Regions from separate parts of the Homo sapiens genome. Here regions 1, 2, 4 and 5 are each linked to region 3. The links come from fine-mapping of genetic effects on gene expression. A gene starts in region 3. Each other region holds a variant in brackets. All regions are shown on one strand. Distances are from middle to middle. Region 1 overlaps SLC9A9 (solute carrier family 9 member A9). Region 2 has its middle 94 kb from the start of SLC9A9-AS1. Region 3 holds the start of CHST2 (carbohydrate sulfotransferase 2). Region 4 overlaps SLC9A9 (solute carrier family 9 member A9). Region 5 overlaps SLC9A9 (solute carrier family 9 member A9).

Region 1 (6,567 bases), 180 kb before region 3:
GTGTGGATTTGAGAATAAGGGCAGAAAGGGCCAGGTCCTCTGGGGAGGCCTCAACCTTCTGCCAACAAACCTCTGCTTTCCTGTCCAGTGCCCCCATTATGTTCCCCACTGCCTCCCTGATGGTGCATTAGCATTGTACCAGTCCAGGAAGAAAGGTTAGATTAGAACGATAAGGAGAATAATGTTCATATTTGTCAGTCTCACATTTTAGAGGGTTTTTTTTTTAAAGAAATTCCATTTTTATGATTTTTCAGGTCATACAAGGGGGAAAAAATCAAATGTTCATAATCTGCTTAAACTGTCAATTAGAATATCCCGCAAGGAAATTGTTAGACCGTTTTGTCCATTGGCAAATAAATACAAATTTGATGAATAGCAAGCATTCTTTTCCATCACTTGACAGCTGAGAAATTGAGACAAGCCAGGAAAGAAGCTGAGGAGACAGTTCTGTAACTCAAGCCGTGTTTCCAGCCAGCCCACTTCTGGCCAAAGACACACCCCTTGTTATCTTCAGTCATTTCTTTTTTAATGAGGTGATGGGCAGTTAGTTTTGGTGAGGGGCTTTAAATAGAATTGATCTTCATTAAACAGATCTGTCAAATCTGCCAAAAGACTTCCTTGAGACCATTCCACATGATAGTATTTGTGTTTTCATAGGCAGCCTCTTCTGTAGACTCTCTCTTCCTGTCAACTCACTTCCAGCACAGCATCCCTGTATAAAGACGTTGAAACCCCAGTGGTTGTGAATTTTTAACAAAGCAACAATATTGCCTTTGGGACTTTAAGGTCAGAGAGACCTAGTTCAAATCCTCAAGTCCTAGTTGCCACCACTTATGAACTGTGTGACTCTGGGACATTTCCTTCTCTGTGCCTGTTCCTCAGCTATGAAACGGTATCATCTACCTTCTATCACTGTCAAGGAGAATGAATGTGGTAGCGAACATCAAGGGCTTAGCACTCAGCATGTCCATTCCCATCAGCAGCAGCTGATCTAACCAAGTGACTGCGATTCAGTGAGGGGGTTAAGAGGAGGGAACACGAGTCACCTGCTAGAACATAACGAAGAAATGCTTAATACAGCTTCTCGAAAAGTTGCCCTCAACCCTCCCTTTCTCAGCCTACCCAGATGCCCCATATCAGTTGGCATTTAAGATTCTTGAGCAAACAGATATTGATATAGAAGTTGTGATTTTGCCTTATCACTCCCTTAGTAGATGGAAGGGAATCATTTTCTCAATCCCAGAAATTAATAATAATGTTGATATCTGGTTCACGTTCAGATATCAGAATATAAAAGTACTCTCCAGAGTTATTATTCATAGACCCAAATTAATTGTTGACCCTGAGTTATAAACACCAGCAGGAGGAGCTAGGCTGCAGAAAAGTGTATAGGGGTGCTGAGCCCTAAGGGTGGTGGTGCTCATCACCTGGGCTTGCAGGTAAACAGAGCCATGTGTCAAGACTGAAGCATTTAATACCACTGGACTTAAGTCGTAATAGGAAATGGGAGGGTGTTAAACCAGCCTTTAGGAAAACTAATACAAGATGGATTTTGAATGTCTGAGGGAACATTTTTGGAAGAGTCATTATTAAACTTCAAAGAGAATCAGCCTTATCAGCAGTGATAATAGAAATATATTGGCTTTTCTGAAGATAGATCTTGGGTGTCTCGTTTATGAGCCAGCCATGGCTGGACTTTTATCAAGTCTGTCAACTCGAAACCAAGTTCTTAACCCAAGGCCTGAATGCTGCCAAGATGAAGCCATGTCTGAACAAGGCAATAACATCCCCTCTTATTCCAAAGTGCCTCTCTTGTAAAACTCAAACTTATCAAGAGGCTTTGGATTCCTCTCTCAGTTCCTTGTCTTAACAGGGGAATACATCCCATGTCTAACCAGAATGTTTGTTGCTTCTGGAGTCAAACATATGCGCCTCCTAGGCACAGCCATTAACGTGGGTGTTTCTTGGATGGCTCAGACAACCAGAGTTTGGATTTTAATGGCTCTTTTCACCTCTCTTCTCCCTGAGGCCATCTATCTAGGAGAAATCTCACCTATGTATGAGAGGCAGAAAAAGGAGAAATACTGAAATAATTGCATTTTTATCATAAGCAGACCTATTATGAAGTTATGTGGCAGGAAGAGACCCAAAACAATGGATACAATTTGACTTATCCACCATTCCAGTGGGTGACTAAGAAGTGACTCTAGTTGCCATCTTCCCACAAAGGTCTAAGAGACCTCTTCATCCTCTTTCCCCCATTCAGTATATATATGTTTTCTGGAAATCTGTGCCAGTAAATGTCCAGTGGAGTATTTTGGTTTTGCTTTCTAAAGACTAACCTGGAATGAATAAAGTTCCTCTGTTAAGAAATGGAGAAAACAGATGTTTTAAGTCATCTTTTTAGGGGACCAAGGGCAGTGCCTCTGCCGGCCTGAATCTAAGTCTTTTTTGGCTTTTGGGAGGAGTCAAATGGGCCTGGCAAGTTTTGCAAGGGAAATCTCAGAGGTCATCCAGACCTGAAGTGTAGGTAAGGAGACCCTGGTTTAGCACAAGGTGGAGTCAAGTTCTAGTTCCGCTATTAAGTGTGTCACATGAAGCAGGTCACTTATAAATACCTCTCTGAGGTTTAGTATGCTCATATGTAAAAAGCAAATAATATCTTTCCAAAGTAATCATCCTCAAATGCAAGTCTCACTGTGTCTTTCCCTTGCTTAAAACCAGACACCTGGCCCTTCCTACCTAGTCTAACCTCATTCTCATCACTTAGTCCTCCTCTTGCTGCCTCTCATGCAAGAACACACCAGCAATATTGGATAGCATGCTGTTTCACACCTCTGCTCCTTTGCACATGCTGTTCCAGCCCCCAAGAGGCCTTGCCTCCTTCCCTCCTTCCCTCAAAAAAAAAAAAAGAAAAGAAAAAGAAAAAAACCCACCTGGAACAGGAAAAACATTTGTTCCCCTTTGGAAACTCAGTTCAGATATCACTTTCTATTTGAAACTTTCCCTGAACACTCCTCTACACACCCCTCCCCAGCCCCAACACAAACACACAGCTACTTCTTTGAGTCTCAGACTGTGCCTTGTTCTCATCTGCCCATGATCCAGGTGGGCCTCTCTAATTTGTACAAAGGCTGTGACTAGGCTGGCAGTGGCCCTGGAGGAGTAAGAGTCTTTGGGGACAGGAAAGCAGCCAGAGCGTGTGTGTCACACTGGAAGTCCGGAAGGGAAATGCCTGGAGAGCCAGTTGTCCCTCTGCAGGGGAAGGGCA[C/G]GATGTGGAGAGGGCGGGCAGGGAAGGCTGCCAAGAAGCCCTCCGTGGTGTTAGAAGTGCATGTCTGGGGCTTAACTGAGATGGACTTGTAACGTGGGAGGGACTCCACACTCTTGTGGAGGATAATTGAGAACAAGGAGGATTATGCAATTTGAAAACATCGAATTCCAGAAAACGTGATGATTCTTGACAGTGACCCACTTCACTTGTACCCATCTGGCTTTATCCTCCAGTTCTGCCTGTCTTGAGCCTGAGTCACTCCTCGTCAAACGCAGTCATTCTGTCTGTTCCCAGTAAGGAATAAGACCAAACCTGCTGGCTGGTTGGAGGATCTGTCCTTTCTGCCAGCTCTCCCTCTCGCCATCTTCCTGGCTCTTTACTGCTTTCCTCTGTCCCTCCATCACTGCTCTTATTTCCTTCCCTCCTGCTATTTTTCCTTCTTATCTGGCTGTTTCAGGGGCTCTCTCCTCCTCCCCGCCACTCCACACAAACCTCATTCAGGACTCCCAGCCTTTCCTGCATCTCCTTTCTTGGGCTTTTTCAGCCCTTTAATTCATTCCTCTTAATATTTATTAATACAAACACCTCATTTTCACCTTCAATGTTTTTTTCTTTCTATTTTCTGGCATCTTTTGGTTCTTCTCTGCTACCCGATTTTCCATCTTTTTAGACAAGCATTCATTAAGCACCTACTGTATTCTGGGCAGTATGCTGAGTGCTAGTGAAGAAAAGATGTATAAGCCTATTGCCTGTATATACTAGGGCAATCATCCAGAGGAAATGGGGGCTGATGCCTCCAGCATCCCCCACCCACCATAGCTTTAATGCTCAAGGCAACGTGCTCCTCATCCTCTGCATCACAATCCAGAGTTGCAAAAGATTCCTGGCCCGCTGTGACAAAGGTGGGACAACACTGTCTTAAAGCCCCTAGCAGAGGTGCCAGGTAAGATATACCAGGCCAGCAGCTAGCAACACCTCTCTCCCCAACCCTCTCACTCTTCCTAGGGTGAAGGAGGACAAGTTGAGATAATGAGGATTCTGAACCTCTTTTATTTCCACTCTGCAGTTCTGCAAGGGTTGGCCCCTCCTGGTTTCATAAAAAACACCTCCACTGACATTAAGAGTGGCTTGAAAATTAACATATACAACTAGTATTTTGCACACCAGAAAAAGAAAGCTTTTCAGCTTTGGGTGGGCTTAGAAATGTGGTTGGGAAGACACTAACTGAAAAACACCAAGGGAAAGCGGAACACTCTAGGACAGTGGTTCTCACACTTTGGTCAGTGTCAGAATCACTAGGGGAAGCTGCAAAAACACAGGGACTGTGCCCTATACTACTTCAAAGGCCTGAGTCACTGTGGGCTCCACTAGATCCCCAGGTGATTCTGATACACACCAACATTTAAGGACTGCTGCTGGAGAATGCGTCTGTCTCATCTTCTGCAGAGGATGGCCCTAACACCCAGCTATTCCATTCTACTCTTGCCTACTGAAGGCTTTTTGTCTGCATGACCTCCACCCTCAAGTATAGGTGGACTTTTCCACTAGAGGGCCAAGAAAAAGGCTAATCCTGCAAGGCCAATCTTCATGCCACAGCTTTTAAAAAATCATTTCCGCCCTCTTGCTGATTTCTCTGCAGCTCTGGGGTGCATTAAACTTAAACTATGTGTGAATAGAAGAGGAAGCAGTTGGTACTATTAAAAGAGGGAGAGAGATAGAAGACTATAGTTTGAATATTACCAACTTCCAAGACTTACAAAGTATGCATTTTGCGCAAATGTCAAAATTTAGTAAGCAAATCAGAACAATTTGGGAGATGGGCAGCAGGAGTGATTTTAAAGCTGCATCTGACCATACACACATCCTGTGGCCGTTCTGCAGGATTAGCCAAGTTTTGCAAATGAGAAAATATGGAAACATACACATGAAAAGATTTCCCAAGGTCATGGTGAAGGTGGTAGTGGTGAGGATTAGGGGCTGAATGCTGTTTCTCCTGGGCCTATTTCTGAGCTACTGGACCACAAAGCTTCCTGAATGCAGATGTTAAACAGGTTTTTGCCTTTAAAATAAAGGTTTAAAAGGTTCTTATTTTGGCCATAGTTCAGTGCAAATCTGCAAATCTCCTAGGGAAAAGGGGACCTATTTGAAGGGAAATTAATTACTTCCAGCTTCTGGAACACAAATCAATTCAACTTTTCCCTGTGTTTTACTAAAGAGTGCTTTAAAGAGTGGTACTCCAACTTGGCTGCTGAGAAACTTTTAAAAAACCTGATGCTCAGGCCTCACCCTGTACCAAATCAGACTCCGGGCTTTTAAAAGTTCCCTCCAAAGATTCTGATGTACAATAGAGTTTAAGAGCCATTGCTCAAAGCATAGCCTTACTCATAGCATAGCTCTGTGGATCAGGAGCATAGGCATCACCTGAGAGCTGCTTAGAAATGCAGAATCTCAGGCCCCACCCCAGGCCTACTGAATCAGAATCTGCATTTTATTATAACAACATCCCCAGGCATCTGAATGCATTTTAAACATTGAGAAGCACTCCTTTAAAGCACTCCTCACTCCCCCTAAAAAAGTTTATACATTTCCAAACACTGAAGAGGTTTATCTGCTTCTTCCAATGAGGTGCAGAATGGGCAGGAGGGCAAATCACAGAATTTTAGAAGTAGAAATAAAAACAGCTAATAAGAATTAATATGCATGTCAAGTGCTCTACATGCATTCTCTCTTGATATTCACCACAACCCTATGATAGAGGTGCAAATACTCTGTCCCTTTTCACAGATGACCAAACTGAGGCTCAGACCTAGGTGAAACAGCTAAAATACCACCTGGAGAGGCAAAGTGAGGACTTACACTAATGCTTCCAGGACTTAAAAGCACACGCTTTTAACCACTCAGTCAGACTTTCTCAACCTGTGTGCCAAACATTCCAAATGGGCTACAAGTGCCAAGACATTTGTTCCCCTCAGCCCTCACATAGAGTCTGGGATGGCCACCCACTATAGAGAAAAGATTAGCGATCTCTGCTCTAAATTATGCTTTTTCCAAATCATACATTTTGCCAATTGTTGGACAAAAGAGAAACTGTGTCTTCTAAAGTTTAAGTGACCTACCTGAGGTCATCTAGCTCTTTAAAGCCAGGATAAGGCTCAGAACCCAGGGGTCCCAACTGCCTGCATGCCTCCTCCCACTAAGCAGTGGTTCCAAAGTATGGGCCCATAACCAGGAGCTTTGTATCATCTGGAAACTTGTAAGGAATAAAAATGTGTGGCAGGACGTGGTGGCTCACGCCT
Region 2 (6,567 bases), 130 kb before region 3:
ATTTGGCCCACAGTTGAAGAGCATAAGCCATAGGAACATTATTCAAAGTTGTATAACAGCAAAAATGGGCCAAGCTAGAATTTTGCCCAAAAGTCTATTGAACCAGTTAAAAGATTATGCTTAGAGGGGGAAACAAAAGTGAACTCCAGGACACAATTTTCAAGCTGAAAAGCCTTTTTGATCATGTTTGTTTGCAAGTTAGTATTTCACTTTTCAGTTGGACAAAACCACCAATGAGTATAAATCAGCTCTTAGCTTATGTGAGATAAATAAATGAAGTAAAAATGCACAATAACATTTTGTCTTTTGTTACTGAAAGCCCTTGTGTATTAGTCCATTTCCATGCTGCTGATAAAGACATACCCGAGACTGGCAAGAAAAAAGAGGTTTAATTGGACTTACAGTTCCACATGGCTGGGGATACCTCAGAATCATGGCGGGAGGCACGAGGCACTTCTTACATGGCAGCAGCAAGAGAAAATAAGAAAGAAGCAAAAGCAGAAACCCCTGATAAACCCATCAGATTTCATAAGACTTATTCACTACCACAAGAATAGCATGGGAAAGACCGGTCCCTGTGATTCAATTACCTCCCCCTGAGTCCCTCCAACAACACATGGGAATTCTGGGAGATACAATTCCTGTTAAGATTTGGGTGGGGACAGAGCCAAACCATATTACCTTGCTACAGAAAAGGCTTTGTTTTGTTTTGTTTTTGAGACAGAGTCTCACTCTGTTGCCCAGGCCAGAGTACAGTGGCAAGATCTCGGCTGCCTGCAACCTCCACCTCCCTGCAACCTTCTTCTGCCTCAGCCTCCCAAGTAGCTGGGACTACAGGCATGTACCACCACACCTGGCTAATTTTTGTATTTTTAGTAGAGATGGGGTTTCACCATATTGGCCAGGCGGGTCTTGAACTCCTGACCTTTGGTGATCTGCCCACCTTGGCCTCCCAAAGTGCTGGGATTACAGGCGTGAAGAAAAGGCTTTCCATTTTGAAGATGATTGCCCTGTGCTGGTGAGACAGACCAGGAAAGATGCGTTGGGAACATCCTGACAAAATACTATTAGGGTGGCCAGGAAGGTCTTTGCTGGGCAAATGAAAATGTGTTTCCACACCCTGCTTTAGTCAGAGAGAACCTCAGTGTTCACCAATATTTATTGACTAAATAAAGGTCAAGAGGTATATTTAATAAGTGCCTACAATATGCCAGGCACTGTTCCTGCCCACATAAAGATTACATTCTAGCAGAAGATGACAGACTTTAACAATGATGTAGCTAAGTGATATGGTTTTGCTCTGTGTTCCCACCCAAATTTCATCTCGAATTATAATCCCCATATGTCAAGGGAAGGACCTGGTGGGAGGTGACTGAATCATGGGGGCAGTTTTCCCCATGCTGGTTTCATGACAGTGAGTTCTCAGGAAATCTGATAATTTAAAAGTGTGAAGGGGCAGGGGTCTCATCCCATCCCACCCCACCCGCTGCCATTCCTGCGGCCATGGCAAGACACACTTGCTTTGCCTTCGCCTTCCACCGTGATTGTCAGTTTCCTGCAGCCCCCCAGCCATGCTTCCTGTTAAGCCTGCAGAACCATGAGCTAACTAAACCTCTTTTCTTCATAAATTACCCAGTCTCCAGTAGTTCTTTATAGCAGTGTGAAAACAGACTAATAAAGTAAGTTATATGGTATATTACCAAGTGATAGCACCACAGTGGGGTTGGGGGGATAGAGCAGTGTAAGAAAATATAGGATGGGAAGTAGGATGGATGTTAGTATTTGAAACAAGACAATCAGTTTAGACCTCTATGAGAAGATGGCATTTGAGCAAAGACTTAAAGATGAGAGAATGAACCATGGAGATGTGTCTGGACTTGTCTGGAACATTCAAGGACAGCAAGGAAAGAGCATGGCCAGAGCAGAGCATGCAGTGCGGAGAGCTGTGAAGGATGAGGTCAGAGTGGAAGCCAGTAGGGGGAAGGGGCAGTTCAGGTAGGTTCTGGTAAAGTCCTTGCTTTTATTCATAGTGAAGTGAGAACCAATTTCAGCCAATCACGGGGGGCAATAAGTAAATGAAAAATATGACTAAAAGGCTCATTCCGGCTGCTGCATGAAAACAGACTCCAGAGTTCGTAATAGAAATAAGGTATCTGGGTCAACTACATAACAATTACCAAATCTCAGCAACACGAACAGTAAGAATTTATTTAGCTCATGTGTCTGTGTGTCACTTGGAGTTCTGTGATCTAGGCTGGGTCCCCTGAGGCCATCTCAATGGGGACGAGTGCTCCTCTTCCCTGCTCCATCTCTCAGCCTCCTTGGGACCAGAAGGCTACAACAGAAATTTTCTTTTCATGGGAATCATTGGCTTGTAGATGGCATCTTAAGCCATGATCTTGATTTAACATTAAAGTTGCTTATCACACAAAATCGTGGCCCCTGAGTGTAGAGTTTTTCAGCATGCCATGTGAAGATCTTCTGGGCATTGACTCACCAAAATGATCTAAATGTCAAGGGGAAAGGGGCTCACAGTTTAAGCGGGTGATAAGACATAACTTTATACTTCATGACACTGGATGCCAAGAGGTCATTTTTTTAAAAGCTAATTATTTCGACTGCATTGCTCACGTTACATACAACAGTTTACATTCGGTGTCCTGAACCTATCACTTCAAGAGCTGAGATACCATATTTTTAACGTCGGGGATAAGACATCTGGAGTTTTGAAAAACAAATTTCAGACAACTCCATCCCTGGAAGTGGCTATTCTCTAAAACTATTTTCTTGTCTTCTGAGAGAGAGAAATATATGGTTTATTAATGAGCATATTTCAAAGCCACATCTAAATGTTATGATAGAACTGGAAGAAAAGTTATAAATACAACCAAAGAATAAATGAGGGATCCATTCACCATTACCTTCCTTGTTGAAACATCCAGATTTCTACAGTAGGACAGTCAGGGCTGGTGGGCACCAAGACTATAGAAAGTCCTCTAGAATCTGGAGGTCATGCACTTTTCAGATACTCAGAACAATCTGACAGGGCCATCCTCCATGTCCCTTCATTACCAAAGATATAATTACGACTTAAGATTTTCAAATTTAGGGAAGTATAAACTAGGAATAGCAATGGACCAGATAGAAAAACTCATCTGTGGCTCTC[ACT/T]CTCCACCAAACAGGGCATGGACATATCGGTGAAAGATCATCAACTGTATCATGTTTCTTACTGGCACAACACTATTATGGTTTGCATTTTAAATGCAGTTTCAATTTTACGATGAAGTAGTAGTGAATCCTTTTTTCCTTGATAATAGTGGTCTACAGGCATACCAAATTCCTGGTAGGTAGCTCATATAGCGCTAACATTGAGAAACACATGCCAGGAAGCTACAAGCAAATCCAATTCATTCTCTCACCTACCACAAGTCACGTTATACTAAGTACCTTTAACAGATAGCCTAGGAAGAAGTACAGGCAGCTTTCCACTTGAAGGTAAAAAAAAAATACTCCTAATAATTTTCAGTCCACAACACTCAACTGTGCCAATAAGCCAAGCTAGCTATAAGAAAGATGAAACAAGTACGGCCATAAAAACAGTGACCCTTCTACATTAAAAAGGAAAAAAAAATACAACTCCATTTAGCAGCTCAATTAAGATGACCTCTAGTCATCACACTTGTTACAATGACAGCTCCTCCCTCTAACACTAGCTAGATTTGGCTTTCTCTGGTGGCCTGGAAATGACAGGGGAATTATTAGCTCTTTCTCTCCAGGCGTCAGCATTTCACAAGCACTTACGGTGGCTTTAACCTCAAAAGAGTTCCTGCTCTGCGGGGTAAACTTTCCTCTATGGTATGTAATTAGCCCATTGATGCATCTCCCATGCTGGGCTGATATTCTGGAGGGCAGCATTAGCAGGTCAAGTTCAAGTGCTGAAGGCAGGTAGCATAGCTGCATAAGATTGCAGAGAGCTCTCTGTGGGGAGAGGGGTAGGCCTGAGGGTCTCTGAATAAATATTGATTCCCTGGGAGACAGGACAACAGTTTAAACCATATGGAATGTAACCAAAGTATGCATGCATGCGTGCACGCACGCACACACACACACACACACACACACACACACACAAATAGGTGTGTGCCGGCCTAACTGTTCCTCCTCTGGGACACAGGTGGTTCCTCTTCCACCATTCATAGGAATTCTGAACCAGGTATGGGAAGAGCTGGTCATGGGCAGAAGCAAGAAGGAGCAAAGAGGGAGACCAGAAGCTGTAATACACGGGCAGCCCCTGAGGGACACTTGGCAAAAAGAAAATTATTGCTTCAACATCATTTTCCATTAAACACAATTACAAGAAAGAAGTCACAACCAACTATAGCTGAAATAGCAACTGATTGGAGTAAAGAACATGGGTATGAGGTCAAGCAGAACTCAGTGCAAGCATGGAAGATAGACGCTGGTACTCATTGTCAGTTGAGTTGTACCAGAACGTTCAGATCGTATTTCTCATATAGGTTTGTGAGAAACGTGAGGATTTTGCACTGCCACAGAACAGAGAATCACAACTTGAGTTTCTCAAGTTTTGAAGCTGAGTTTGATTCTGACACTATCTAATTTCAACACTTAGAATCCCTCCTCATTCAGGAATTTGGGGAAAAAGTGAAACATGAAACATGTTTTCTCTGTCCCCCACCCCGCCCCCCCATTCTTGCTAGGCTGATGGGTGGTTTTCCTGTTAGGAGAGTAGGCATCGCCCCCAATGGGGACCATCACCACACATGTGCATAAAACATGGCAATGACTGTGGTACCCAGAAAACACTCAGAAATGAATTTTCCCTCTGAGACACCACCAGCAACACCCATGCATAATGCATGAGTTCAGCCATCGGTGGAAATAAACCAAAAGATTGTAAACGTGTGACTGAAAAGATTGGGAATGTTGAAAACTCCAATCAAGGGGGCCAGGGTGTAATTTCAGAGAAACAAAACTCAAATGTGATTGTAATTTAGCAAAATAAATCTGAATCAATTTCACTGTACCCAGTTTAAGAACAGACTCTGGAACACAAAGGGGAGCGGGTAGCCTGGAACACAAAGAGGGAAGCCCAAAGAGCCCACAGTCAGCAGGGCCTGTCCAGCTCCATAACACCAAGGACGTCTATTCCGCCATGGTGCAGGACTGAACCATCAGGCCACTCAGAGGCCACTGCATGTGAGGAGGAGGAACCCTGTGGCCGTTCTGGAACTCCCACCCCTGCAGCACCCAGAGCAGCTCTCCCTTGATAACTCCCACATACAGGTCTTCACTAAACATTTCATTTTTTAAAAAAGAGTGCCTCCATCTGAAAACAGCTGTCCTGAGTTAAATATCTCTAAGACTGTCTTCTATATTACTACTTCCCTTTGCCCTGACTTCATAGCTACTAAGAAACCTTCCAATAATTCTTCTTCCCCTACTAAAGAGAAGAAGGCTCCCAAACGGCAAGTATTCATGTTAGTCACTTGCATTAAATATGTCCAATTGTAGACATAAAATGCAGCATAATCAGTCTCTTCTGAGTTTAATTGGCTCCAATACCCAAGTCACATTCCAAGTCAAGTCACCCTCCTGTCCGGCTGAGGCAGCCCTCTGATAAATTTGTCCCCCCTTCAAGACACTCAGTGACCCATTGGCTATCCTTCTATGGATATCTTCACATTGCAACATGTAAGTGTGAATTAAATGGTTAACGTTGAATTCATCAACTGATGAGAACCCTTCTGTCACAGTAAAACCCAGTGAACAAGCAAGTGGACAGTTTTTACCTGCACCTGCTGTGGTCGGGGAAGTGGTGACTAGCACAACTCAAGTAGCAAAAGGAGAGTAAAGGCCTTGTAAGTAAAGGGAAGGATTTCTGAGGATGCACGCAAACCAAAAGTTATTATCTCCCTCCTTAGAGCCAGAGAGAAGCATGAGGTCCATCCACCTGAAACAAGGGGAGTTAGCTGTATGTCTTCACAAATGTGTAATTAAAACACTGTGCGGCAGGTGGTTGCAGAAGGCATTTGCTGGAGGAAAAAAATTCCTCCAGCACCTAAGCTTTGGTCTGAAACATTGTTTCAGTTTCCTATGGCTACTGTAACAAATTACTACAAGGTAATAAACTTGTGTTGTGTACTTAAACAACACAAGTTTATTACCTTGTGTGCTGTGTACTTAAACAACACAAGTTTATTACCTTACAGTGCTAGGAGTCAGAAGTCCAAAATCAGTCTCACTGACCTAAAGCCCAGGTGTAGGCAAGCTGGTTCCTTCCCGAGGATCTGAGGGAAGAGTCTGTTTCCTTGCCTTTATCTGCTTCTGGAGGCTAGCTGCATTCCTTGGCGCAGAATCTTTTCCTCGCATCATTCCAACCTCTTGCGTCCGTCATCACGTTTCCTGCTACTAACTGGGATCACCTGATCCCTGCTCTATACGGACTCCGTGGTTACATTGGACCCACCTGGATGCTCAGCCTAATAGTCCCATCTCAATAGCCTTAATCACACTCGCAAAGTGCCTTTCAGTGTGTAAGGTAACATA
Region 3 (6,567 bases):
ATGGGCTGGTAGCAAAACTCCTCCACCTGTTTGATCTGCTGGAAGGTGAGGGCGGTCCGCCAGGCATTGGCGGCCTGCGTGGCATTGCGTGCAGATACCACGAAAGGCTTGGAGGAGGAGCCCGAGCCACTGGTCATGTTCAGGGCAAACTGCTCCATTTCGGGGCTCACCAACAGTCCCACAAAATCGTACACTCTCCGTAGTGTCTTGACGGGGTCTCCCACCAGGTCCTCGTACCGCACCACCAGGTAGTGGCCCTGCAGCCAGTCAGGGGGCTGCAGGGCTGTCTGCAGCGTCTTAGCCATACTATTGCAGATGACCTCCATAGCGCCCAGAGCGTGGTAGTCTGCGGGGCCGCCCACGCCCTCCTTCTTGGCGCCAAGCTTGTGGCCCGCGGCCTCCAAGAAGGGCATGCGGTGAGCTCGCGGGTCTCGGCTGCGCACCACCTGTAGGCTCTCACGGATGAGGCCGTGGCGCGAGCGGATCCGTGAACTCGCCACCGCGCGGGGATCACGCACCAAGTGGATGACCTTGAGGTCCAGGGCCGGGTCTCGCAGCAGTGGCGCCAAGACCGCCACGTCGAAGACGCGCACACCCTTTATGACTAGTGTGCGGTACTTGCGGCACTCCTCCTCGAAACGCGCCAGGCGCTGTGGCGGGCACTTCTTGCACACGCGGTCGTCCACCAACCCCACGACCTCCTTGCGGTAGGCGGGGCAGAGTGGTGACGAGCACACCACCTTGTTGGTGGCTGCGCCGAAGATGCCCAGCGTGGTGAGGTTGCGCCCCCCGCTGCCCGCGGGGCTATACAACTGGAAGACAGAGAGGTCGCAGCGGTAAAGAGCGCTCAGCATGTCCCGCGCTGCCCCCTGCAGGGAAACGGCGTCCCCCGGATACAGTTTTTGCCATACATGCCACACTGGCTCGTAGAGAAAGAACACCTCGGGATTCTGGTTGAATAGCTCGCCGAAGAACGACGAGCCAGAGCGCCACGTGGTGAACACGTACACCAGCTGCCGCTTGTCCCCGACGCCCCCGGTGCCCCGAGTGCCATTGCCTGGAGGGGCCGCAACCCCCGCCATCCCTGCCGCGGCTGCAGGAGCCGCCCCGACGGCGGCAGCGGGAGGGCGGTAAGGAGTGCGGAGGTCCAAACGGGCATGAGCACGGGGCGGCCCGGCCGGAGGCGGCCCTGGGCGCCCCCAGCTGCCTCCGGCTGCCCCCGCTGCGGCACCCAGCGGCCCATCGGGGTTGCACTGCTGCAGCGGCTCCTTGTGCCACTTGTAGTCCAGGAGGTTGAGCATAGTGAGCACCAGCAGCAGTGCATAGCCCGCGCACAACACCAGCGCCTTCCTACGGAACACCTTCATTCCGAGAGGGGACGCGGGCCAGCGGCGTCCTGGGCGCCGGGGCCACTGCGGGAGCAGGGCACGCGGCGCGGCTGCAGGCGCAGCCTGGAGCAGCCGAGGGAGCGCGCCCGGGGGCAGAGCTCGCTGCGGGCTGCGGCTCATCACAGGCACAATCCGGGCCGGCGGCGCGGCGGAGGCAGCCCTGCAGCCCGGGAAGGGGACGCAGCGGGCTGGCTGCTGGCGCCGGGACTCGGGCCGCGACTCCGAGGCGGGCGCGGCGGCTGGTCCCCAGCGCCCAAGGCTGGCTCTCCCATGGCAGCGGCTCCGGGTAGGACCTGCGAGGGGAAGCGGAGTGAGCGGATGCGCCCCAATCTCCCTCCCAGCCTCCTCCTCCTAAGTAACGCCCACCCTCGGTTCTGCCCGGTTCCTCCGCTCACCTGGAGCCGAGGGCGCGCCCGGGAGCGGCCCCGGATCACCGCCCGGCGGACTGTCCGGCTGTCACTCGTTCCTCGATTTCGCTCCCTCTCGCTTCCGCTGGGGGTCCCCGCACCTTCGAGGGGTCTGGGGAGTCGGCCGACTTATCCCTGGGCAGTTTCCGGGCAGCGGGCGCCCTGCGGCTCGGGAAGAAAAACTTTCACGCGGCCCAGAGCCCCGCTCCGCGCTCCGCCGAACCCGGCGCCTCCCGGCTCCAGCGACGTCTCCTCCGCTTTCTCGGGACCGCAGCTTCCTGTCTCGCTCAGGGGAACGAAGCCGGCTGGGGGCGATGGCTGGGGGCGGCTTATATGGGACTCAGCTCCCGGCATAGCGGCGCAGCCCCTCTCGCTTTCGGCCTCCGTGCGGCGAATTTTCCCACCTCTCTGGCAGCGGTGGATGGGGCACAGCGCGACCCCGCAGCGGCGGCGGCGGCTGCTTCCATCACCGGGAGGATGCCCGGGCGGACAGCGCAGGCAACCCCCGCCGCTCCGCAGCCTCCGACTGGACCAAAGGACCCCGAACACACAGCTCTAGGCAAGGAAACCCAGGTGTGCAGCACTGCCCGACCCGACCCAACCCGCCCCCGGTACCAGCGCTTCTGGCCAACGAGGTATTTAAGCAAAGAAAGACCCCGCCGCAGCCGCCGCCGCCGCGCGAAAGCGGCGCCCAGGAGGATGCTGCTACCCGACTCCCCTTACGCCGGGCGCCCGCAACGCGCTCGGACCAGCCTCTGCGCGGCTCCTGCCAGCCGGCGCCCGGTTGGTGCGCGCCGCCGTCTGTCGCCGCGGCTCCTCCCCTCCGCCGCGCAGCCCTCCCCCTTCGCCGGCCCCGCCCCCGCCCCCAACGCCGAGCCGGCTCCCACCGTCGCTGCGCCTCGGGGGCTGGAGACGCGACCCGCTTTACCGCGACGCGCGGGGGCTGCAGTCCACGGGTCCGAAGGCTTAGCTCTGCGCGCAAAGCGCCGGGATGCGAACGCGGGATCTGGAGCTCGTCGGTGCCGAGAGCTGCCAGAGAGTTGGATTCTGCGTGCAGCTGCCGGACTCGGCCCCATGTTTTTGCTCTCAGAAAGAGTTGGTGATGAAGTTTGGGCAGAAATCCCCTGTCGGCCGTCCGCTCCACGCTTCCCTCGGGGCCGACACTGCCAACCTCTCCGGGCACTGAGGACACCTCTGCGCCCTGGAGCGGTGGGAGGACGCGGAGCGCCGTTCTCTGGCTTCCGACACCCTGCCCGCCCTCTCTAGTGGGTCTGTGGCTGCGCCCTCTCGAAGGAAGTAATAAATCTTTCTGACCTTGGGGGTCAGAGGAGACGCTTCAGTTTTCCGGAGGGGTGTGCGGGCGGGACCGTCTTTCCGCTTTACTGGACCTCTGGCCGGGGCTGCTCTTGTTTCATTGTGCCCCACATGCGGAGCCCCGATGCTCTCCGCATTTCCGCTCGCGGTGCTGCGTCCACTGTGATTGACGTCCTCTGGAATTGGGGTGATGGGGGAGGGGAACGCCCCGTTCTAATTTGCAGAAAAATACTTGTCCCGCTTCTTGGTTTTGTAGATGAGATCAAAGAACTTGACCCCAAAGGAAACACCGTTGTTGAAAGAAAATCATTTTTCAGTTGCTTTAGGTTTAAGTACTTTTGTTTAAGGTTATGAGGAAAAGCGTCTCTCTCTCCCCCCAACTCCCTCCCTCCCCAAGAACACTAAGCTGTAGCCTCAACTTCATCTGTAGAATGGGGACAGTTGTAACAGCCTCCGGAGACTGAACGGTGGTTGAGTATCAGAGCGCGCACACGAAAGGTTAGACCTGAGTTCAGGCCTCCAAGTGCCGAAAAGGGAATCTCCGTGGGGCCTGAGGCTCAGCACCCTCGGATAAACAGAGCTCTCGCTGATCCGGAGTTTTGTTGCCTCCTGTCCCAGTAGAGTTTTTAGAAGTTACTGCACAATTATCTTTGTAGCGTTTCGGGCAGACTTTTCAGAGGACCGTTCTAACATTAAAATATTGCTGTTTGCGCCATTATTCTTCCATGAGTCTTACAGAATCCCCTGAGTACAAAGACTTGAAAAGTGACTTAACTCGCTTTCCACGGGTTTTTAACTCTCTTACGGATTTAGTTTCAGGGGAGAAAAATGTTCAAAAAACTTATTTATCCTTGTTTTCCAGAAAAACCCATAATGTCACGAGTACAGTTCAGCTTATTTTTTCTCCTGGGGAGGGGGATTGGGACAAGGACAGCAGAGCTCAAATTTTATATCCAGCTTTCTCAAATAATATGGCATTGCCTCTGGAAGTGGGTCGAGACAGGCAAGAATCCCTGTTAACAGATGAAGGTGGTAGAGTTTAATTGAGCGACTCCCCATCTTTTCCTTTTCTGGAATCCCCAGCCTCCCTTCGCCTACTCTCTCAAATGCCCCTGCCCCTTTTTCACCACCTCTTTTACCACGAAAACTAAAATGACATTGGTGCATGAAAAGACTGATGGGAGAGAGAGGGAATTGGGGAGGAAAGTAAATCTCAATTTTAATATTCAACATGATTCCAAGAAAAATAATTTCTAATATTTTTCATTTAGTTTCTGGCTTTGTGCTTACCCAGAAAAAAACTGAATTGCATTAGTCGATGTAGGGACCCTTTTTAAAAACAATTGTTTGCATAGAAATAATTCCGTTTGCAATTTTGTAACACTTTACTGGTGTTGGCAAAATAGTAAATCCATTTGCCAGGTGCCCCCACAGTGCTCAGCTGGCATAAATTTACGGGTTCTGGCATCTCCACCCTCTCCTTGCTTGCAAATTTTTCCCATTTTGCATGGTGTCATGATTAATTCTGAACTTTGTTATAGCTAATGACATCTGAAAACTTCATAATGCCTTCCTTCCCGCATTTGTTTGGAAATTCCTTTCATTTTAATCTACTTATTTTAGCATAGTAATGACCCAGACATATAATATGTCACATAATAATGTCACTTGCACAAGAGCCAGTCATGCCACAGGGCTAGCCTTAATTTCGGCTCACTGGTTTAGTTTGTCACAATTCCATCTCCCCCAGGATGCTCTTTCAGTCTCTGTCTTCTCTGCTGCCTGTTATGTTCTATTGGAAACTGTCAGGCCTCTGAGCCAAAGCTAAGCCATCATATCCCCTGTGACCTGCATGTACACATCCAGATGGCTGGTCCTTGCCTTAACTGATGACATTCCACTACAAAAGAAGTGAAAATGGCAGGTCCTGCCTTAACTGATGACATTACCTTGTGAAATTCCTTCTCCTGGCTCATCCTGGCTCAAAAAGCTCCCCCACTGAGCACCTTGTGATCCCCCCCTCCACACCTGCCCACCAGAGAACAACCCCCTTTGACTGTAATTTTCCTTTACCTGCCCAAATCCTATAAAACGGCCCCACGCCTATCTCCCTTCACTGACTCTCTTTTCGGACTCAGCCCGCCTGCACCCAGGTGATTAAAAAGCTTTATTGCTCACACAAAGCCTGTTTGGTGGTCTCTTCACACTGATGCGAGTGAAAGAAACTTGCTGTGGCTTTTGCTTAATCCTGGACAAATGTCCAGAGATCTTCAAGGACTTTCTTCCAGAGTCTGAACTGGGGAAAGATGCAAGGCTGGGTTACCTGAACAGTTCCCATTTGGGCCTATCTGTGTGAATCCTAGAAGATTCACCTTTGGAAAATGTTTGCCCCTGGGCACCAAGATAGATTCACTCCCTCATATTTTGAACAAATATGCATTTTCAATAGAACTTGAGATTATAGATTCAGGTTACTCATAATCCTTGATTTAAGATATGCTGCCATTGTTAGTCCAAGTGGCCCTTTTAAATGTCCTATGTTTTAATATAATGAATATGCATGAACCCATTACACAGCCCAAAAACCTCCAAGAGTAACCGCTCTACTTAGTTTAGAAACTGAGATGAAATGATAAAGTTCTAACAGGAAGGAAAAACAACTTGCTTTAACAATCTCAAAAAGATACAAGACTACTTATGGCCGGGCACGGTGGCTCATGCCTGTAATCCCAACACTTTGGGAGGCTGAGGTGGGCATATCACTTGAGCCTAGGAGCTTGAGACCAACCTGGGCAACATGGCAAAACCCCATCTCTACAAAAACTACAAAAAAATTAGCCAAGTGTGGCAGTGCATGCCTGTAGTCCCAGCAACTCGGGAGACTGAGATGGGAGAATTACCTGACCCCAGGAGGTCAAGGCTGCAGTGAGCCATAATGGTGCCACTGCACTCCAACCTGGGCAACAGAGTGAGACCCAGTCTCAAAAAAAAAAAAAAGAAAAAGAGGTTGGGCACGGTGGCTCACACCTGTAATCCCAGCACTTTGGGAGGCCGAGTTGGGCAGATCACCCGAGGTCAGGAGTTTGAGACCAGGCTGAAACCCCGTCTCTGCTAAAAATACAAAAATTAGCCTGGTTTGGTGGTGCGCACCTGTAGTCCCAGCTACTCGGGAGGCTGAGGCAGGAGAATTGCTTGAACCCGGGAGGCAGAGGTTGCAGTGAGCCAAGATCGCGCCACTGCACTCCAGCCTGGGCAACAGAATGAGACTCTGTCTCAAAAAAAAAGAAAAGGAAGGAAAAGAAAGAAAAAGAAGAAAAACAGTACTTACAAATTGAAACAACACTATTACCAGAGGGATTTAAAGGAGGGTTCCACCAAACTTTCAAGAACTAGATTGTTTCAGTCTTATCTCTATCAGAGAAGAGAACAAGAGGGAATATTTCCCCCAACTCATTCAA
Region 4 (6,567 bases), 480 kb before region 3:
GAGACCACTTGTAGTAAATATGAACATAATGCGCTCCATGTGGTTTAGACAAGCAGAAAAGGGGCTTTCACTTCTGCTTCATGTTGGTGCATTTGTCCCTTTGTGACGCTTAATGGTTCCTGCAGAAGCAGAGCCTCCAGAATTCAGTCTCTAACTTGTTTCAACCGGAGGGGCCCTCATTGAAAACTTGCCAGAATCTGTGGGCAATGAATAAGAATTGGACATGTTTCCAGTTCTAAAGTATTGCTTCTTTCTTGTTTTGCAAGAATTCAACAATATCACAGCTGAGTGGGAGTACTGTAAACTGTTATTAAATGGCTTTATTATTCTCTGGTAGGTTAGCTATTTATAATTTAGCCAGTACCTAATGTGGAAAAAGTAGCTTTTACTGTATTGCAATCTCTTCCATGTAAACTGTGTTCTCACATACTCGGAGGCATATTAATTGTGTTTGATTTGCACTTTATATACTTCCACCTTCACTCCACCCCACTTCAGTCATACTAAACTTCTTCACCACATCCTAGACAACTATTATTTTCTCTGAGCCTTAATGCCAGCCTCTCCTTCTTCATCAGGCCCAGTTCTGGTTGCCATCCCAACTCAGGAGTCATCTTCTCTCACTAGCACTCCCAGCTTGCTACATTTACTCTATGAAGACTGTGTCTGTCACCTAGTTTTATGCTTGGTTCTCCACATAGCTCTTCATCACTAGGTTTTGAGCTCCATAAGAGAAAACCTTACTTCTTGTCTTATTCATCTATGTGTTTCCAGAGCTTCGCACCCTGCTTGGCATGTAACAGGGAATCAACAAATTCACAGTACCTTGAATTAATTACTTCCATAAAGAACTTGAGTGGGCTTACAGGGCTAAGGAATATTTATTTCAAAAAGGATAACTAAAAGTAAAAAACTGTATCACTTTCTTAAAAAAAATGTGTATCTGGCACAAAATAGACCTTAATTTAGAACTAAATTTTATTCAGAGCATCCTGGCAACAGAGTGAAAAGGAAAGCACGTCAGTTTTTATGATTCTGCAGGTCAGTTAAAGAAAATACTCAAGTCATCAACAATGTGTTTTTTTCTGTTATCGAATTCTGTGAGAAATAAAGCATGAAGTGACGTCATAGACAATGTTCTTGATTATAGTCTTACAAAAGACACAGAAGAATTCTTCAAATGCACCTTCTAAAAGTCACCCCTCTGTAAAAGCAAAAAGTAAAACAGTGACCCCTAACTGAATAAAGCCACTGCTAAAATACTCACGTCAGGTTGTTTCTGGTGATCTGCTATGAAACAAAGGTAGAGCCTAAGTAACGGTTGTCCATTTCTGTGTAACAAATTACATCACAACTTTGCTGCCTAATATAGCAAACATTTATGATCTCACAGTTTCTAAAGATCTCTTTAGGCTGACTGGTTCTAGTTATGGTCTCTCATGAGGTTGCAGACAAGCTGTTGGCCAGGATTATAGCCTCTGAAGACTTGACCAGGACCAAAGGATCCACTTCCAAGCTTGCTCATATGGCTGTTGAGTGAGAACTTCAGTTTCTTGCCACAGACTTCTCTACAGGGCTGCACAAGAGTTTGCTTTCCCCAGAGAGAATAATTCAAGAGAAATATTGTGAGAGAATGAAAGAGCAACAAAATGGATTCAATCTAATCTCAGAACTGACATACTGTCACTTCCAGCCAATTCTGTTGGTCACACAGACCACCCTAGTGCAATGTGAGAGAGGAATGTAGAGGGCGTGAATACCAAGTGTCAGGGATCATTGAGGGCCATCTTGAAGGCTGCCTACCACAGTAACCTGGAAGCATGCTTGGATCTCACATACTTTAGATGGTCCTTCTAGAATCTCAGATGTGAGCACTTTTAAGTATTGGATGAAGACCATTCAGAGATGACTTCTATGGGTGAAAGTCAATATTTATGTTATTGATCAGTGAGAAATGTATATAATTCCAATCCCAGGAGACAAATGTACCTGGACCAAATGGTATGAAAAGGTGCAGGCCTAGTTTGCATATTTCTTTCCCATCTCTACATTGATAAAGTCAACAGTTTCCTTAAAACCTGAATGTGTTCAAGAATTTAAGAGCTTGAGGCTGCAGATTTCTGTGCATAGACTATGGAAGAGGAAATCTTGGCTTTAAAGCGCCATTATGCTCACATGTGGTCATCAGCATTCTTATCCACAAATCTTGGAAATGCCATTTCAAATGCTATATTTTTAGGAGGGCTGCATCTTAAATGGCCCTCAGGGACAGAGTTGAAACTGAATGAAGGGAATCGTTTTCCAAGGTTAAAGGGGTTTCTTTGGGGAAGTCAAGTGCTATCATTATCCCTATTGTACGGGTAGCTTCAGCAACTTACCCAATAATACAGAGCTAAGCATCAGATACCATATTCAACCAGGAAAAACAGAGTTAACCTCTATAATTTTAGACTATAGAATTGCCCCATTTGTGTCTATATTTCCTAGTCTTTTAAAAGAAATTATTAAAACATTTAAAATAAATGAAATATTTATTAAAGTACAATAACTATTATTAAACAGTTAAATTAAGATATTTAAGCATTAAAAATGTCTAGAGGGTAAAAGAATTGTTAAAATTAACTAAGTCCTTGTAAAGGCAGCTAGTGAATGTTTCGAGCAATTGACCTGTTCCAGCTGGCCTTCCTCACTGGAGAGAACATCTTAAGAGGTGGACGTTCACCCAGATCTCACGTTGAGATCTTGAAATGTGTTGACCTAGTTCTTGGGCCTGAGCCAGAACCTTAGCTGATGTCAGGAGCATGCACAGGAAGGAGGCTCTTTGCTCCAGACTGGGCTACGTGCTGCTGGTCCCATAGTGAACAAGCCCTGGACATGCCAAAACAATGTGGTCAAACAGCCCTGCTCGCCTCTAACTCTTGGCTGATTTGAGACAATAAATGACACAACACCAAAGTTAATTTCTTACATGATAATATTAAGGACAAATAAAACCTGTAGGAACAATTAGTTTTTAAAACTTGGAGAAAGACATTGGCTAAGAATTTAAACAAAAAAGGACATGGGAATACTGCTGTATATAGGCTGGAAAGGCAACAAAGTAGAATTTCTCCAGGAACTGCAGAGCAAGTCTGAGCCAGGGGAGTGTGAGTGCAGTGATGATGGCAGCAAGGGGTACTGCAGGAACAGTGAGGGTAGAGGGGGGATGTTGGAACAGTGGGGGGCATGGCACAATGCCATGTAGCAAAGTGAGAGTGTCTCGAGACCAGTGAAGGTGTTTCCTCCAGAAAAGCCTATAGAAGGGGCAGTGATCATGCAAAGTCATGTTCACATTTCATCTGATGTAGCCACTTATCAAATTACCTTCCAATAGATTCTTTATAGTAAACTTAATTTGAAAGCAATGATTTATTTGAAATCTGCAGCGCTGAGTTGGCACCAGAGGTGGGAGGGTTAAATACATGAATTTGGAAAGTGGTTTAATACCAGATTTTGAAACTGCACATAGAAGCACAAATGTTAAAAACAATCTGTGGAGGTGGTGTGTGATACAGTGAAAGAGCAGAGGTTCTGCAGAATAGAAACGCTGGCTCCCCCATTGACTGTTGAAATGGATTTCGCCAAGTCATTCAACTTGACTGAATTTCAATTCCAAATTCTACAAAATGAAGCTTACCACAAAATTTATTTCATGGGAATATGAAGAAATGCAGATGAGATATTGTTGAAGTCCCTTTGTAATTCTAAATTCTGAATTATTTTAAATTTGGGGGTGGGGAGGGTTACAAATGATTTCCCATCTCAAAAGACTGATTGTTAATTTGTATATTTATTGCCTATCTCCCTGAGTCCTTCCATGTCATATTCACTTGCATATCTCCAGCACCTACAATAGGGCCAGGCTGTCAGGAGGTACTCAGTAAATATTCATTGAATGAATAAACATGAATCTCAATAGAAACATTAATATCAGAATTACATCAAAGACAAGACATTTTGAAAAATAACCCCCCACTGTCATTATTGAGACTGTTTCTCCCCTCAACTTCCCATGTCTAAGAGAAATGAAATGTGTGCTTACACAAATACACTTGCA[A/G]CATTTCCGCTTACATCCCCATTCACCACTTTGTTATGCTCAGTTGAAATAAATCACACAGAACTTCCTCCCTGCATTATTCTTCTGATCTCCAGCAAGCCCTGCCAGGAGTGAGAGAGGCAGCCCAGTGGGTCTCCTCTCACTTAGCCTTGGGCACAGTGAAAAAGAGGATTTGAAGTAGTTGAAAACATTTGTGGAGAAAATGTTTTCAGCCTTATGGTTAATTTAACAGTCTATATCTCCTATATTTCATTATTTTAGCTCCTCATGATAGCTATGAAATAATTTCCTAATTCTTTCCTTAGCCATGGTTGCTGACCAACATAGACATTTTCATGCTGATCAACCTCTCTGATTTATTGCGTTTTGGGAGGGTGATCTCAATTCTATGTAGGGAATAAGAATGTCACCAATCTCTGCAGATCATTGATATTTAGAAATAGTAGAGTTATTAGCTTTAAAGCTCAACTTACCCATGTGTTAATATTAAAATCTGATAAATTAATGAGTTCTACTTGTTGTATTTTTCACACACTTATAGAATTCTTGTCCATCCAGGGGAATTTCTTTCAGTTCTTGCTTCTCTTTAAGATAGCAAAACATCCTTTCTTATGGCTGTATAGTATTCCATGGTGTATATGTGCCACATTTTCTTTATCTAATCTATCGTTGATGGGAAACCATCATTCTCAATAAACTAACACAGGAACGGAAAACCAAACACCGCATGTTCTCACTCATAGGTGGGAGTTGAACAAAGAGAACACATGGATACAGGGAGGGGAACATCACACACCGGGGCCTGTTGAGGGGTTGGAGGCTAGGGGAGGAATAGCATTTGGAGAAATACCTAATGTAGATGATGGGTTGATGGGTGCAGCAAACCACCATGTCACATGTATGCCTATGTAACAAACCTGCACATTCTGCACATATATCCCAGAACTTAAAGTATAATTATAAAAAAAATTTTTTAATTAAAAAAAAAAGGTAGCAAAACATCTGGAAGCAGTACCGGGCTGGTAGGTAAAACGCCAGAGAACAATAATCGGGACAGTGACTGTTTAGTTGCTTTATGTTGGACAAGTGCATTCTCCAGAATTTTTTGTTTTGATTTGGTTTCTGGGATTTTTCTTAAATGGAAAGAGGCATTGATATCTTACTTCGATGATAAGACAGATGAAATATTCTGAGACCCTTTGATTTCTTACAGGTCTTGAGGGACGCATAAGATTTTTGTTTGTTGTAATTATTTGAAGTTCATTACATATTTTGTTTATGTATGACATTTTAATATTTAAGGATGCCTTGAAGGAATTTGGATTCCTTATTGCTCATAAAGCTTGTCGGTGGTCAGCCAGTAGCGCCATTTGCATCTCAATAGTGCAAAGGAGAGAAATGATATTTTGCAGGATCTTGGAGAGTATCCCTGGCAAGGTAGAATCAAACACAGGCAATTGTTGTGCTCATAAAGCCCCACGGCTTCTGTGGATTATGTGTAGGTCACATCTCAACTACAATTAATAGCAACCACCACCACTAAGATTGCTGACTACTCAGATGTTAAGCACAGCCGTATTTCTTTGCAAACAGAGGCTCTCCTTATAGAAGAAAAGAACTACTTATGCTTTCCAGGAAAAGTCCTTTTATTATTAGATTCCTGAGCATTTGGCGTTTTATACTGTTTATAATTCAATGCTCTTAGTAACAACAAAATAGCTGTAACTGATTGGCAAAATATAAAGAAATTCAGAAACATAATTATGTTTTTTACGAGTTAAATAGTTATATGAGATGGAGGACTATGGACAGGAAATATAATTTCTTTTAAAATCCTTTCCCCATGAGGCACACGGTAGGCTTTCTTCACCTAACTATTCTTCTGCCACAGTCCCATCTGGTGCACTGCACCTATGTGACAGAAGAAATAGCTCTCCAGGTCAGTGAGGGGGTAACTCATTTGAATCTTGTTTAGAATGAGGGATTGAGGCGACCTGTGGGTTCTACTTACATAATTTTCAGCATCTGGCTTGGCTAGCAAATCAATGGCCTCAAAACAAAAATAGAAACAAACAAAAGATTCCTGTTCCCTGAGAAAGATAATACCATTGTTCAGGAAATGGTGAGCTTGACAGGTATCTTTTTGTCCTTATTGGTGCCTACCAGACCACACACAGAGAAAACCAAACTCCCTCCATATTAAAGGACAAGGGCAGCAGCAGGCAGCACGCTTCCTCTAACTGGAAAGTGGAGAATGATTTTAAAAACTTGTGTTGACTTGCTTGCTTGCAGCATTTTAATAACATGTAGGTAGGAGGCCACGGGACTTCAGAAAAACAAGTACTGAGCCCCATCAGCAGTGCTTGTTCTTGTAATGTTCCGGGGTAGCATGTGCGGATTTGGAGGAAGACGGTGTCTTTTTCAAAGGAGGCTATTGGAGGAAGTTATAATCACAGTGTAAATAGTGATTC
Region 5 (6,567 bases), 280 kb before region 3:
TGTCTCTACTAAAAATACAAAAAAATTAGGTGTGGTGGCAGGCACCTGTAATCCCAGCTACTCGGGAGGCTGAGGCAGGAGAATCACTCAAACCCAGGAGGCAGAAGTTGCAGTGAGCTCAGATCACGCCACTGCGCTCTAGCCTGGGTGACAGAGTGAGACTCTGTCTCCAAAAAAAAAAAAGAAAAAAGAAAAATTATACAAAAAATTAAAAATTCTTGAGGTGAAAGTATAATAACAAATGAAAAATTTCCTAAAAGGGCCCAACTATATATTTGAGCTAGAAAAAGAAATAGTCAGTGAACTTGATGATACATCATTAGAAAGTATATAATCAGAAGAACAAAATAAGAAGAAAAAATGAGCGGATAATTAGAGACCTCTGAGATACCATTTGGAACACCAACATGTGTGTAATGGAAGTTTTGGAAGGAGAAGAGAAAGGGCAGAAAAAAATAATCCAAGGAATAATGGCTGAAAACCTCCCAAATATGATTTTTAAAAATCAATCCACACCTTCAAGAAGTTCAGTGAATTACAAGTAGGGAAAACGAAAGCCATATCAAGACACATTATACTCAAAGTGTTGAAAGACAAAGTGAAAATCTTGGGTGCAATAAGAGAAGTTATTCATCACACACAAGAGAACTCCAATAATAGGAATATCTGACTTCTTATCAGAATTAATGAAGTCCACAAAGCAGTGAGATAACATAAAATGCTTAAAAAACTATCAGCAAGAAGCCAATACCCAGCAAAACTATCTTTCAGAAAGGAAAACAAAGTCACATTTCCAAATAAAGACTGAATTTGTTGTTAGCATACCTGCCTGACAATAATTACTAAGGAAGTTTTTTTTAATGAAAGGAAATGACACAAGACTGCAATTCAAATCCACGTGGAAAAAAAAAAGTGCCGGCAAAGGTAACTACGTATTAACTATAAAAAACAGCATAATTACATATTGTATCTCCTTTCTTTTTAAAACTAAAAACAATATAAAATTCAATTGTGTCTATAGGATATAAAGATATGTATTTGACAATAATAGCACAAATGAGGAGTGAGGAAAGGAAGCTATAGTGGAATAAGGAAGTGGCATGAGACAGTAACTCAAATCCACAGGAAGAAATAAAGAGTAACAGAAGTTGTAAATAAGATTAATAGAAAAACTTTGTAAATATACTTTTTTCACTCTTAATTTTTTAAAAAGATGCAAGATTGATATAAAGTAGCAACACCGAATTGTGTTTATAACATATATAGATGTAATATATATGACAGCACAAAGGATGTTGTTAAATCTTATTTCTGGTTCAGTAAGTAAGAGTGGAGCAAATGTTCTACATCTTACTGGAATTGAGTTATTATAAATCCAAAGCAGAGTCTAAGAAGTTGAGATGTATATTGTAACACCTAGAGCAACCACTAAGAAAATAACAAAAAATATGATTTTTTAAAATCAACAAATAAACATAGGATACAAATAGCAAAATGGAAGAAGTAAATCCAACTATATCAATAACATTAAATGTGAATGAACTAAACAATGTAATCAAAAGGCAGACACTGTCAGACTGAATTTGAAAAAAAAAAAAACTAATTTCACCTAGATTCAAAGATACAAATATCCTGAAGGGAAAGGGGATGGGAAAAGATACACCATGCAAACAATAACCACAAGAGATCTGGAGTAGTATACTAATATCAGACAAATAGACTTATGACATATGGAGAGATGAAAAGGAACACTTTATAATAATGAAAGGGTTAATTCATTTGGAATATATAACCATTATAAACATAGATGCACTCAACAACAAGGTCCCAGGATACATGAAGCAAAAACTGACAGAAAAGTTAAAAACATTAAAGAAAGTATCTTTCAGTTCTACAAAAAAAAAAAAAAAAAAACACAAAGGTGCTAAGTAAATTGCTAGAGTTTGAGAAATGCCACATTCTACCACACTGCAATAATATTTGCAGATTTCAAGTTCACTTTACATTGTTATATATGGACATCTCGAGCAATAAGTATATTCCAATAATTTCTACACTTAAATCTTCTCATAAAAGTCTATTCATGCCAAAGGATTTTTAAATTTTTATAATTTCTTCCTTTTTATTCGTTGAGGTAGGCAGCATGCCAAATTAAATTTTTTTAAAAAAACTGTTTAATTCTTCTGTTTCTTATTACCAGTGTAACTTCTCTCAAATTAGCTAATCTTTGTGGGTCTCAGTGTTCTTATCTTTAAAATGACATGGTAGGGTGCGATCATCTGAGCTTCCTTCCACTTACAGTTCTGAGACTGGTGTTTTCACCATGAAAATGAACTGTTTCACCAAGGTAATCATCAGGAAGGCCAGTAGAATCTAGATTTCTCCATCTGAGATGGTGAGATGTACCTCACTAGGGTAGAATTTCAGCTTCTAGAAAGACTTCTGAGAACTCTTAACATCTGTATGGAATTCATAGGTTTAAGTTGGAGCATTTAATAAAGCATATTTTGATTTAAGGCATCATAAGTGGATTCTGTTCAGGAGCACTTTCATTCCTCCTGTGTAGGTCCTACTATATCTTATGATATGATCTGCACTCCTGACATCTGCCATTGTCAGATGCCACAACCTGTATGTGAATTTCTTGTGAAAACCTGATCCAGCCTAGGAATAGGAACAGTCTATGTCGAGTTGTACATGAATATTCAGGTACCTTAGAGAAACATTTAAAGACACAATTCTAACATTAAGGCTGGAAACAAAGCTATGTTTAAGATTTATTATATTTATGGATTTCTTAAGAAATTTCAAGTCCCTGAAAACTTAGTTTCCAGTTTAAGTGAAACCTTTTTACTGCTGCATGCTTACTAATGTGAATAGCTTTCTACACTAGTCTGATGCCAGGTAGGAAAAACAATGGCACATTCAAGCTGAGTAAATTAAAGGAACTTAGCAAGGAACTATTA[T/C]AAGAGCTGGTTTTAGAAAACAAGGAATAGTGCAGTACCCCAGGACTGGAATCAATGGAGAGCAGTTACCACCCTATACCCAAATGGGAATATTAACCAGAACCCAGAGAGGGTAGCTGGGTGGGGTAGATAGAGAGGGATTAAGGAGCTGAGGCTTTGATAGAAGAACACAGACAAGCCTGGTGACCTGGCAGGAAGGAAGAAATAGATACCCTGTCTCACTCTCCTCTCTCCTTCCAGTATCCTGCCAGTACTTCCTATTGGCTAAACCTATTCAAGACCAAAGAGCACGATAACCCAATTGATGCCATCTGCATTGGTCTGCATTCCAGAGCCCAGGATAATGTAGAGAAAAGGGGGTAGAGTAGATGTAGAGGGAAAAATGAAAAAGTCAGCAGTCCAGAAGATCCAAGGGTAAAATATTAAAAACAATTGCAAAGTTGTTACTTCACCCACGATCAGGACTGGGGGAGGCAAACAAGGTACCTAGGATGCAAAATCTAAGGAAGCACTCACTCTCGGGCTCATACAAATGCTCAGCACTTGCACGATCCTGAGAGACAGGATGTCTCCCTTGCCTAACTCTAGTCTTGGCTCTGATTCCACCCAGTGACTAAAAGTTGCTTGACACAGAATTTTAAAAGGGAATGAATTACCTTTTTTTTTTTTTTTTTTGCATAAATTCAGTCAAAAGTTTTTTTAATTGTTTATTTCCATAGGTTTTTGGGAAACAGGTGGTATTTGCTTACATGAGTAAGTTCTTTTGTGGTGATTTGTGAGATTTTGGTGCACCTATCACCCGAGTAGTATACACTGGACCCAATTTGGAGTCTTTATCCCTCACCCACCTGCCAGCCTTTGCCCTGACTCCCCAATGTTCAATGTATCATTCATATGCTTTTTTGTCCTCATAGCTTAGTTCCCACTTATGAGTGAGAACATACGACGTTTGGTTTTCCATTCCTGAGTTACTTCTCTTAAAATAATAGTTTCCAGTTCCATCCAGGTTCCTGCGGATGCCATTAATTCCTTTCTTTTTTACGGCTGAGTAGTAGAGCATGAATTATCTTTTAATTTGTAAGCATAAAAAGAATATTTTGTTTGAAAGATTTCAAAATACTCTTTTGAATTTTTCCCCAATGACAGCAAATAACATACTAGCCATACATGAAATATCCAGAGGCCAGTATGTATAATGGCTTGACATTATTATTGAACCCTGGATTTTTATTATTTTGTGTGGGTATCCATTTATTCCAGCTGCACGTTTTTTCACACTTTAGCATTTTTGAAGTCAAGATGTGTCTCATAATCAGTGGTGTCACAAATATAATTAACAGCGTTTTTCTTCTTAGATGTACATAAAGTAATAGTATGCCTTATCATGAACTACATCTAGGTTTGATGAAACTCACCGTATGTACTTTAAAGATATATATGAGTGTAACAAATTTTTCATGTCTACCACAATATCTAGCATATACTAATGGTCTTGATATATTCTCAACTGGTATTTCATGAATGAATGAGTGGGTGAGTTAGTGAGTGAAGGAGAGAATGAATGAAATAGTCTACCTGCCCTGCTTTTAGGATGTCGATAGTGTGGTGTCAGGAAAAATATCAGTTCATATACAACAGTTGTTTAAGCTGTCATCATGATCTCCTAGAATGATAGGCCAAAACAGCCTGAGTGTTACATTAGCCACAAGCATCCAATTAACTTTCATTATGTTATTTTCCGCCAAATTGATGCTAATTCTGTTTCCATGCTGTGCACTTTCCGTAGTCTTCATGATAATTTCAGAACCTGTTTTACAACATATTCTTGCTACTCTTTTCCTCTTTGCCTTTCTCTTCTGCTCTAAGACAACTTCTTCCCAATAGTATTGTTGCCAATTTTCTTTCACTTTCCTGATTTTAAACCACTGATTCCAAAATCAAGGTGCAGTTTTCAATATAATTCTAGTGTTAACCATGAATTCTTCCCCTTTTAAAATTTTAAATATTTAATTTCTTTTTAACATAGTCATGCACGCAAGCATGCACTTCAGCCCAATGGTGAATAACAGATTTGACCAGAGAAAAACATTATTTTTCTAGTGATTTACTTTAATCCGTCTCAGCAAGAAACTAAAATTATTTTCTTCTCTTTTTATGTGTCATGCAGTAGCAGCTTCCTAGCTTACCCATTGTCTTTCTGTCAACTTTCCTTTTAAAATTAAGATATTTACTCATTTTTAGCAAAAAACAAGATAATGCATTATTAAGACGTATTTTTGACTTGATTCTCTTCTGAGACTAGGGAAGAAGTTTTTTCACTTAAAAAGTAAAAATAGAAGTGAAATATAGATATATATGTGCATGTACATATATATGTATGTGTGTGTATGTGTGTGTGTGTATACAACAAATCTGTGAATTTATTATTAATAGCATCTGGTCTTAATATGGTCTATAATATAATATGGTCTTACAGAGTGTTAACTGCTCCAAATGAAAATAAGGTTTCAGTTATTTGTAGAGATTGTAGATCAAATCTGCTTCCAATTGTGGGCTTAAACAATAGTTTTGGCAACTGTTATATATCCCAAAGCTGTTTTAATTTTAATTTTAGTGATATATTAGTGTTGGTGAAACAATCTTCTTTGGCTATTTTTCCATGTTTTCAGTGCACATGGTTAATAATTCTGTACTGTCTGCTGGATGTTGGTGATAGATAGCCTGAAGCAACAGATTTACTGGTGCAAAATTATTAAAGTAACCAATTGCAAGTGCTTTTTAATGGTTAATATAAAGAAAAGGGTTATAAATCTCTTTTTGCTTTTAATTACTAAAATACATGGTGTTACAATAACTTCAGATCCTCTTCCCAAACTCCATATGTTTTATATAATACATGAATATTACCTAGTGTAGATTCTACATATTGGCTGTTACTATGATAATTTTGTGTCTCCAACTCCCTTTTCACCCGCTGCCTGCCTTCCACGCTTCATGGTGGAGATACCTTTGTTGGCCTTAGGCTTTTGTTCCCATCTCTTTCTGCTCTCAGGAATAAGTCTGATTCACTTGTATCTTGTGTGAATACAAGCTCAAATATTACCTCTCCCAAGTCCTTGCCTTGTAAGGCCTAATCCTCAACAAGGAATGAAGAGCTTTATCCTGTGCTAAGGAAGTCTAGGCATTGGCAGTTAGGGAAATTCATGTCTTGGGAGGAAGCCTTCTCAAAACATCTTAGAAACCATCTTTCCCTATGAATAGTCAAAGCCAATGTGGTGGTAAGGTGGTGGCGGGGGGGAAGTTCAGAATCAACCATTAGAATTTCATGTTTTGAATGAATTGTGTTGTAGGTACCTATCCATCAATTTTGCAAAACTTTGTTGTTGCCTTCTAAGGATTCTTTCCAAGATATCACTCCACAAAAATATTTGCTTTGGCTGGGTTAAATGTTCTTCTGGATTATTGCATAGAGGAGTTTTACAGTTCTTTAAATATATTAAATATATGTTCTATGCATTCCCCCCTTATTGTCAAAGTATACTTGTGATTTTGTAAATGATGTTCATGGGGAGAATATGCTCCTTGCATCAAGAGAATGCAT

What was found.
Region 1: its variant is fine-mapped to the expression of CHST2 in fibroblasts (GTEx, PIP 0.96).
Region 2: its variant is fine-mapped to the expression of CHST2 in whole blood (TOPMed, PIP 0.97).
Region 4: its variant is fine-mapped to the expression of CHST2 in whole blood (TOPMed, PIP above 0.99).
Region 5: its variant is fine-mapped to the expression of CHST2 in whole blood (INTERVAL, PIP 0.93).

Annotation. Positions count from the first base shown.
Region 1 is chr3:143,299,719-143,306,285 of GRCh38, reverse strand. All of the region lies in intron 14 of SLC9A9 (solute carrier family 9 member A9), which reads left to right. Among named protein-coding and RNA genes, the nearest start is that of SLC9A9-AS1, 39 kb to the left of the region's middle. The variant C/G (reference allele first, on the strand shown) is at 3,272.
Region 2 is chr3:143,244,535-143,251,101 of GRCh38, reverse strand. No RefSeq gene overlaps it. Among named protein-coding and RNA genes, the nearest start is that of SLC9A9-AS1, 94 kb to the left of the region's middle. The variant ACT/T (reference allele first, on the strand shown) is at 3,167.
Region 3 is chr3:143,115,758-143,122,324 of GRCh38, reverse strand. CHST2 (carbohydrate sulfotransferase 2) reads right to left here and starts at 2,554. Exons shown (of 2, transcript NM_004267.5): 1 at 1,784-2,554; 2 at 1-1,681. The coding sequence starts at 1,508. RefSeq lists enhancers at 1-554, 1,197-1,838, 2,162-2,211, 2,497-2,996, 3,192-3,321 and 1 more and silencers at 1,012-1,371, 1,432-1,631, 1,692-1,771, 1,822-1,871, 1,902-1,951 and 1 more.
Region 4 is chr3:143,598,530-143,605,096 of GRCh38, reverse strand. All of the region lies in intron 6 of SLC9A9 (solute carrier family 9 member A9), which reads left to right. Among named protein-coding and RNA genes, the nearest start is that of SLC9A9, 250 kb to the left of the region's middle. The variant A/G (reference allele first, on the strand shown) is at 4,097.
Region 5 is chr3:143,397,795-143,404,361 of GRCh38, reverse strand. All of the region lies in intron 12 of SLC9A9 (solute carrier family 9 member A9), which reads left to right. Among named protein-coding and RNA genes, the nearest start is that of SLC9A9-AS1, 59 kb to the right of the region's middle. The variant T/C (reference allele first, on the strand shown) is at 2,967.